2 linked regions of the Homo sapiens genome follow. The protein of the gene in region 1 purifies or fractionates together with the protein of each later gene. This does not show direct contact. Each region holds a gene or a part of one and is shown in the gene's direction. Other genes may lie near its edges.

The links.
Region 2: the proteins of VIPAS39 (region 1) and VPS33A purify together in Homo sapiens (affinity purification with western blotting; one study listed by BioGRID and IntAct). This does not show direct contact.

Annotation. Positions count from the first base shown.
Region 1 is NC_000014.9:77,451,102-77,454,601, reverse strand, and holds part of VIPAS39 (spermatogenesis-defective protein 39 homolog), read left to right. Parts: intron 1-499; coding exon 500-592; intron 593-1,200; coding exon 1,201-1,303; intron 1,304-3,268; coding exon 3,269-3,415; intron 3,416-3,500.
Region 2 is NC_000012.12:122,252,995-122,256,494, reverse strand, and holds part of VPS33A (vacuolar protein sorting-associated protein 33A), read left to right. Parts: intron 1-2,951; coding exon of another isoform or gene 2,952-3,029; exon of another isoform or gene 3,030-3,500.

The DNA of each region.
Region 1 (3,500 bases):
CCTGGGTTCAAGCGATTCTCCTGCCTCAGCCTCCTGAGTAGCTGGGATTACAGGCATGCGCCACCATGCCCGGCTAATTTTGTATTTTTAGTAGAGACGGGGTTTCTCCATGTTGGTCAGGCTGGTCTCGAACTCCTGACCTCAGGTGTTCTGCCTGCCTCGGCCTCCCAAAGTGCTGGGATTAAAGGCCTGAGCCACTGCACCCAGCCTCTGGCACTTTTTTATATACCTTACAACACCTGAGAGAGTGCCCTGGACAAAGTGGATGCTCTTAAGAATGGATGACTACTTATGGGTAATTAGAAGATTAGAAGTATGATTTGATCAGTTGGAGACCCAAGAATCTGGTTTTATATGGCAGGTTCAATATTTGTTTTACCAGATTCTTTTCTGCATCCTTGATTTTTGGGATCAGTTAGTGGTGCAGGAAACTAAAGCTTTTGGAACTCTTTAGGGAGAGACCCAGAAAGGGGCAATGTATGTTTTCCTGTCACTGTAGATGAATCGGACAAAGGGTGATGAGGAGGAGTATTGGAACAGCTCCAAGTTCAAGGCTTTTACCTTTGACGATGAAGACGATGAGCTTTCACAGGTAGGTCAACTGCTGAAGTTTGTACTCTTCTCCACAGTGCCACTATAAAATTCCTTCCTCTTGCATTCTGGGTAACTAGGCTTTTGACCATGTATGTCTTCATTAGGCTCAGAAAAGAGCCAGAAGGATTGTAAAATCCAGCTCACTGCCTTTCTTACTTTACCTTTTTAAGATGATTTATTCCTACAGGTTTTTTTTTCTTTTGAAGAACCCCAAGTCTTTTATTTATGTGATATATATTTTTTTATTTTTGAAAGATGAACTGGATTGGAAGATTTATCTTTGTTGTGTCTATTTTGCAATTGAGGAATCATTTATTTTTAGAGAGGTGAATAAATTCACTCAGGTTTACATAGCAAGTCACTGCCAGGAATATGATGAGAATTCAAAAGTGACTTTGATTCCTCCTAACTCTTTTATCACTGGACTGTAGTGTTGGCTAAAAATCAGTTTGTTTTCTTGGCAAATATGTAGTATGCTAGGCTTTCGATTGCACAGGGCGAGTGTTGGCCACCTTCAGGCCCCAATTCCTCAGCCTTCTTGATTGTCAGAAGAGAGGTGGGAAATGATGATTTGCCTGAGCACCCTAGCCTTGTGTCCCTCTGCAGTTAAAGGAGTCCAAGCGGGCGGTGAACAGCCTCCGAGACTTCGTGGATGATGATGACGATGATGACCTGGAGCGAGTCAGCTGGAGTGGGGAACCTGTGGGAAGTAAGTAGAAGAGTCCCTAGGCAGGGATAGATGTTGAGGATTCTTATCACTGATAAAGGCTCTACTTGTTTGTTTCTTCAATGCTAGTTAGGAGAGGGACTAGGATAAGACTATTTTCAGATAAGCATACATCTGGAAACTTAACTCCAGGAGAAGATACTTGGGAAATCCAGCAGGAGTTCCCACATGGCTATATAGGTCTGCTCTTCAGGGGTTGACTCTTAGCTGGCTATTTCATTCTCATTTGGGGTGCTTGTTAAAATGACATACTCCTAGGCTTTATCCCAGAGATTCTGTTCATTAGGTCTTCTGCGGAGTAGAGGGGGTCTCAAATTTTAATAAACACTGCAGGTGATTCTGATATATAGCCATATTTGGGAACTACTGACTTGACTCAGTATACTAATAACTGATTGACAGAACGGACTTCCTTACCCACCAAGTCTCACTGCTTAGCTGTATATGATACCACTTAATACTTTTTCAGAGTCCATTTGATTTTTTTTTTTTTTTTTTTTTGAGATGGAGTCTTACTCTGTTGCCTAGTCTGGAGTGCAATGGCGCGATCCTGACTCACTGCAACCTCCGCCTCCCAGGTTCAAGCGATTCTCATGCTTCAGCCTCCCTAGTAGCTGGGATTAAAGGTGCCAACCACCATGCCTGGCTAATTTTTGTATTTTTAGTAGAGATGGAGTTTTACCATGTTGGCCAGGCTGGTCTTGAACTGCTGACCTCAAGTGATCCGCCTGCCTTGGCCTCCCAAATGCTGGGATTATAGGTATGAGCCACCATCCCTGGTCCCCATCTGATTTTTAAGAAATATTTTTAATTGAAAGTTTTTAAAAAATAGGCCATACTATAATGTGACTAAAGATTAAAAAAAAAAAATTAAAGGTCTACAGTGAAAAGTTTCCGTTCCATATTGTTATGTATCTTCTCAGTTTTCAGTTCATGTCCTCCCAAAAAACAATCGTTGCTTGGTTCCTGTGTATTCATCTAAAGACTCTTTTTGCATCTGGAAAAGTATATAGAAACATGTATTCTTATCCCATTTTTACACAAGCAGTAGCATGCTTCATACCTTGCTCTTTTTATGTGTTAATATAGCTTGGAGATCTTTCCATGTCAGTATATAAAGAGTGTTCTCATTTTCTCTTTCTTTTTTTTAAATAGCAGCATAGTATTAAATTGTATGGGTTTACCATCATTTTTTAGCCAGCCCACTGTTGAATTTTAGATTTTTCAATCTTTTGCTCTTTATATTTCTATCATTGACTTTATATTCTGACCATAGATGCATAAATGAAAGAGCAATTCTTAGAGTGGAATTACTCACATAGGATGTTTGCATCTGTATTGGGTAGATATTGCCAAATTGACCTCCACAGGGGTTGTACCAATTCATACTACCACCAGCAATGGAGGAGGGTTCCAGTTTCCCTATAGCCTGGCTAACACGGTATTATCAAGCTTTTGGATCTTTCCCCATCTTATAGGGGACTAATGGTTTCTCATTATATTTTTAATTTGTAGTACTCTTAGCAAAGCTGGGGGCAGGTGGTGTGTGCCTCTGGAGGGTAGTGGCGATGGATGGCTTGAGGCCAGGAGTTGAGGCTGACGTGAGACATGACTGTTAGATATGATTGTGAATAGCCACTGTACTCCAGAGCTCCGGCAATGTAGTGAGACCCTGTCTCTAAAAAAAAAGAAAAAAAGAGAAAAAAGAGTAAGGTTGAGCATCTTTTCATATGTTGAAGAGCCATTTGAATTTTCTGTGATCCACCTATTCATGTCCTTGGTCCATTTTTCTGCTGATTAGTCTATTTGATTCTATCTTTTCTCCCTGCCCCAAGTTGGCCAAGGGACCAGGGCTTCTGGTGAAAAGCTTTTAGAGTTTATTGAATGTTGGATGTCAAGGCTTTATTGTGGATGAGAATTGCTGATGTAGTTCTTACTATCTCACAGGTATCTCATGGTCCATCAGAGAGACTGCTGGTAATAGCGGCTCAACCCACGAGGGGCGTGAACAGCTAAAGAGCCGAAACAGCTTCTCCTCCTATGCACAACTACCCAAGCCTACTTCTACCTACTCCCTGAGCAGCTTTTTTAGAGGTAAAGAGAGATGCTTAAATGGATAGGGAAGTCCTTCTCTTTTTCCAGAAAAATCTTAGGCCATAATTTTCATTTACTTTGTAAG
Region 2 (3,500 bases), on another chromosome or scaffold:
TCAAGCAATTCTCCCGTCTTAGCTATCCGAGTAGCTGGGATTACAGGAACGCGCCACCACGCCAGGCTAATTTTTGTATTTGTAGTGGAGATGGGGTTTCACCATGTTGGCCAGGCTGGTCTCGAACTCCTGACCTCAAGAGATCTGCCTGCCTCAGCCTCCCAAACTGCTGGGACTGCAGGTGTGAGCCACTGTGCCTGGCCTTTTTTTCTTCTTACCAATAAAATACTTCGAAGGTAGAGACTAGAACTTTAGGGAACCGCTGGTATAGTACATAAAATTATTGGAATCTTTTTTTCCCCATTGTGTTGTTACAGAGATCACCTCGTTAAAAGAGTTAATTTGTTGACAGTTTTCACAAAAGGGGGAAAAATGAAACTTATTTAAAAAAATAAAATAGGCCAGGCACAGTGGTTCATGCCCGTAATCCCAGCACTTTGGGAGACCAAGGTGGGAGGATCACTTAAGGCCAGGAGTTCGAGACCAGCCTGGGCAACAGAGTGAGGCCCTGTCTTTACAAAAAACTAGCCACACGTGGTGATGTGCACCTGTCATTCCAGTAACTCAGGAGGCTGAGGCAGAAGGATCACTTGAGCCCAGGAGGTTGAGGCTGCAGGGCGCTGTGATCACACCAGTGCACTCCTGCCTGGGTGACAGAGTGAGACCCGGCCACAGAAAAAGCGAAAAATAAAAAAGTTAATCTGGGGCAGTAGAAGTCAGTGGCACCACCGACTAATCCTATAACCAGGGGACTTTCTTGGCTTTTTTTTTTTTTTTTTTTTTTTTTGAGACGGAGTCTCACTCTTGTTCCCCAGGCTGGAGTGCTGTGTGGCGCAATCTCGGCTCACTGCAACCTCCGCCTCCCAGGTTCAAGCGATTCTCCTGCCTCAGCCTCCCGAGTAGTTGGAATTACAGGTGCCCGCCACTGCACCTGGCTAATTTTTTGTATTTTTAGTAGAGACGGGGTTTCACCATGTTGGCCAGGCTGGTCTCGAACTCCTGACCTCATGATCTGCTCATCTCGGCCTCCCAGAGTGCTGGGATTACAGGCGTGGGCCATTGCGCCCAACCCTCTTGGCTCTTTTGTACCTTGTTCCCTAGTGGTTTGCTTACACGAAATCCTACCTGATGGTAATATAGATTTCCTTCTAACATTTTATAGGAAAATTTCAATATACCAAAAAATTGAATTGTACAGTGAACACCTGTCTATCCACCACTTATCTTCTGGATTAACAGTTTTCTATATGTGCTTTATCACATACCTGTGATGGTATACTCATTTTTAATTAATCCATATTTGTGTATTTAATGGGAATTGGTAGCAGCCGAAGCAAACTCTCTTGGAGTGACAAAATCTGTGCAGAGGAGAAATAACCTGTTTATTTTACTTATGATTTGTAAGAAAGGGCAGAACTATTTTCTTTTTTTTTTTTTTTTCCTTGAAACTGAGTTTCACTCTGCCGCCTAGGCTGGAGTGCGTTGGTGCCATCTCGTCTCATTGCAGCCTCCACCTCCTGGGTTCAAGTGATTCTCCTGCCTCAGCCTCCTGAGTAGCTGGGACTACAGGCGCCAGCCACCACACTGGCTAATTTTTTGTGTTTTTGGTAGAGACAGGGTTTCACCATGTGGCCCAAGCTGGTCTCGAACTCCTGACCTCAGGCGATCCACCGCCTCAGCCTCCCAAAGTGCTGGGATTACAGGCGTGAGCCACCGCGCCTGGCCAGAACTATTTTCTACTGACAATTTCAAGCCTTTGGCTTTGTATATTCACCTAAGATGCTGTTTTGGCCGGACATGGTGGCTCCTACCTGCCAGCACTTTGGGAGGCTGAGGTGGGCGGATCATCTATGGTCAGTAGTTCGAGACCAGGCTGGGCAACATAGCAAAACTCCATCTCTACTAAAAATAAAACAAAATTAAAATTAGCTGGGTGTGGTGGTGCATGCCTGTAATCCCAGCTACTTCGCAGACTGAGGCAGGAGAATCACTTGAGCCCAGGAGGCAGGGGTTGCAGTGAGCCAAGATTGCACCACTGTACTCCAGCCTGGGCAACAGAGCGAGAGCCTATCTCAAAAAAAAAAAAAAAGGCGGGGGGGTGGATTGGGGGAGTTAGAGGAAGTGGCAGAAAGAAAAAGAAAGGACTTTATCCGGATGGCACAGCTAAGAGCTTCGACCTAAGAGCCTAATGTTAAAGTCAGCCCCGATTTTTGGTGGAGATGACGTTAATCGTATTTCTGTGATTGGCTTCAGGAGGTACATCTAGATCTCTCTGTGTTTTGAGTTACAGTTGTGACCATCTATGTCATTGTTCTGTGTAAAATGTGGGAATTAGAGTTCTGCCCAGTCAAATGCTCAATAACATTGCTTAAGGTACTGTGGCCTTTACGCGTATATATAAAAATCAGCATATATAAAACCTGCCTCTTGTATGGTATTCTGCAAGGTATTCTGCTGTGTGGGTATGTGAGACTTTGGGGTTAAAAAAATGCGCATTTAAATGTTAAGGGTATTGGGCTGGGTGTGGTGGCACTTTGGGCGGCCAAGGCAGACGGATCACCTGAGGTTAGGGGTTCGAGACCAGCCTCGGCAACGTGGTGAAACCCCATCTCTATTAAAAACACAAAAACTTAGCCAGGCATGGTGGTGGGCACCTATGATCCCAGCTACTCAGGAGGCTGAGGCAGGAGAATCACTTGAACTCGGGAGGTGTAGGTTGCAGTGAGCTGAGGTTGCCCGACTGCACTCCAGCCTGGGTGATAGAGCAAGACTCTGTCTCAAAAAAGGAAAAACAACCAAGATTAAAATCTGTTGTTAACTTTTACATCTTTTAAAAAATATTGTAAAAGAGATGTCTTTGTAGTAGTACAACTTAAAAAAATTAAGTAAAATATGAATGCTATTTGGAGAGGAGTTCCTTAATGTCTTTTTTTTTTTTTTTTTTGAGACAGTCTTGCTCTGTTGCCCCGGCTGGAGTGCAGTGGCACAATCTCAGCTCACTGCAACCTCCACCTCCTGAGTTCAAGTGATTCTGCTGCCTCAGTCACCTGAGTAGCTGGGATTACAGGCACATGCCACCACACCTGGCTAATTTTTGTATTTTTAGTAGAGAAGGGGTTTCACCATTTTGGTCAGGCTGGTCTAGAACTCCCGACCTCATGATCCTCCCCGCTCAGCCTCCCAAAGTGCTGGGATTACAGGCGTGAGCCACCGCACCCAGCCCTCAATGTCTTTTGCCCTTGAACGTTCATCTGATCTGGAGTTTTAAGTGGTTTTGCCAAAAAGCGTGTCTTTTGACATATTCTCGATGGTCTGCCATATTCAGGGAAACGTTAAAATATACCACACTTGAAAGAGTAGTCCGGCGACACTCTCAATAATAACCAAACGCTCCCCACCATGTCTGCCATCCTTCCTCCCTGGGGCAGAGGGCCTGACAAGTGACAACCCCGCTCTCTCTTCCTCAGGCCCTGGACCCTCAGGGCCCCCTCAGTTCTGGC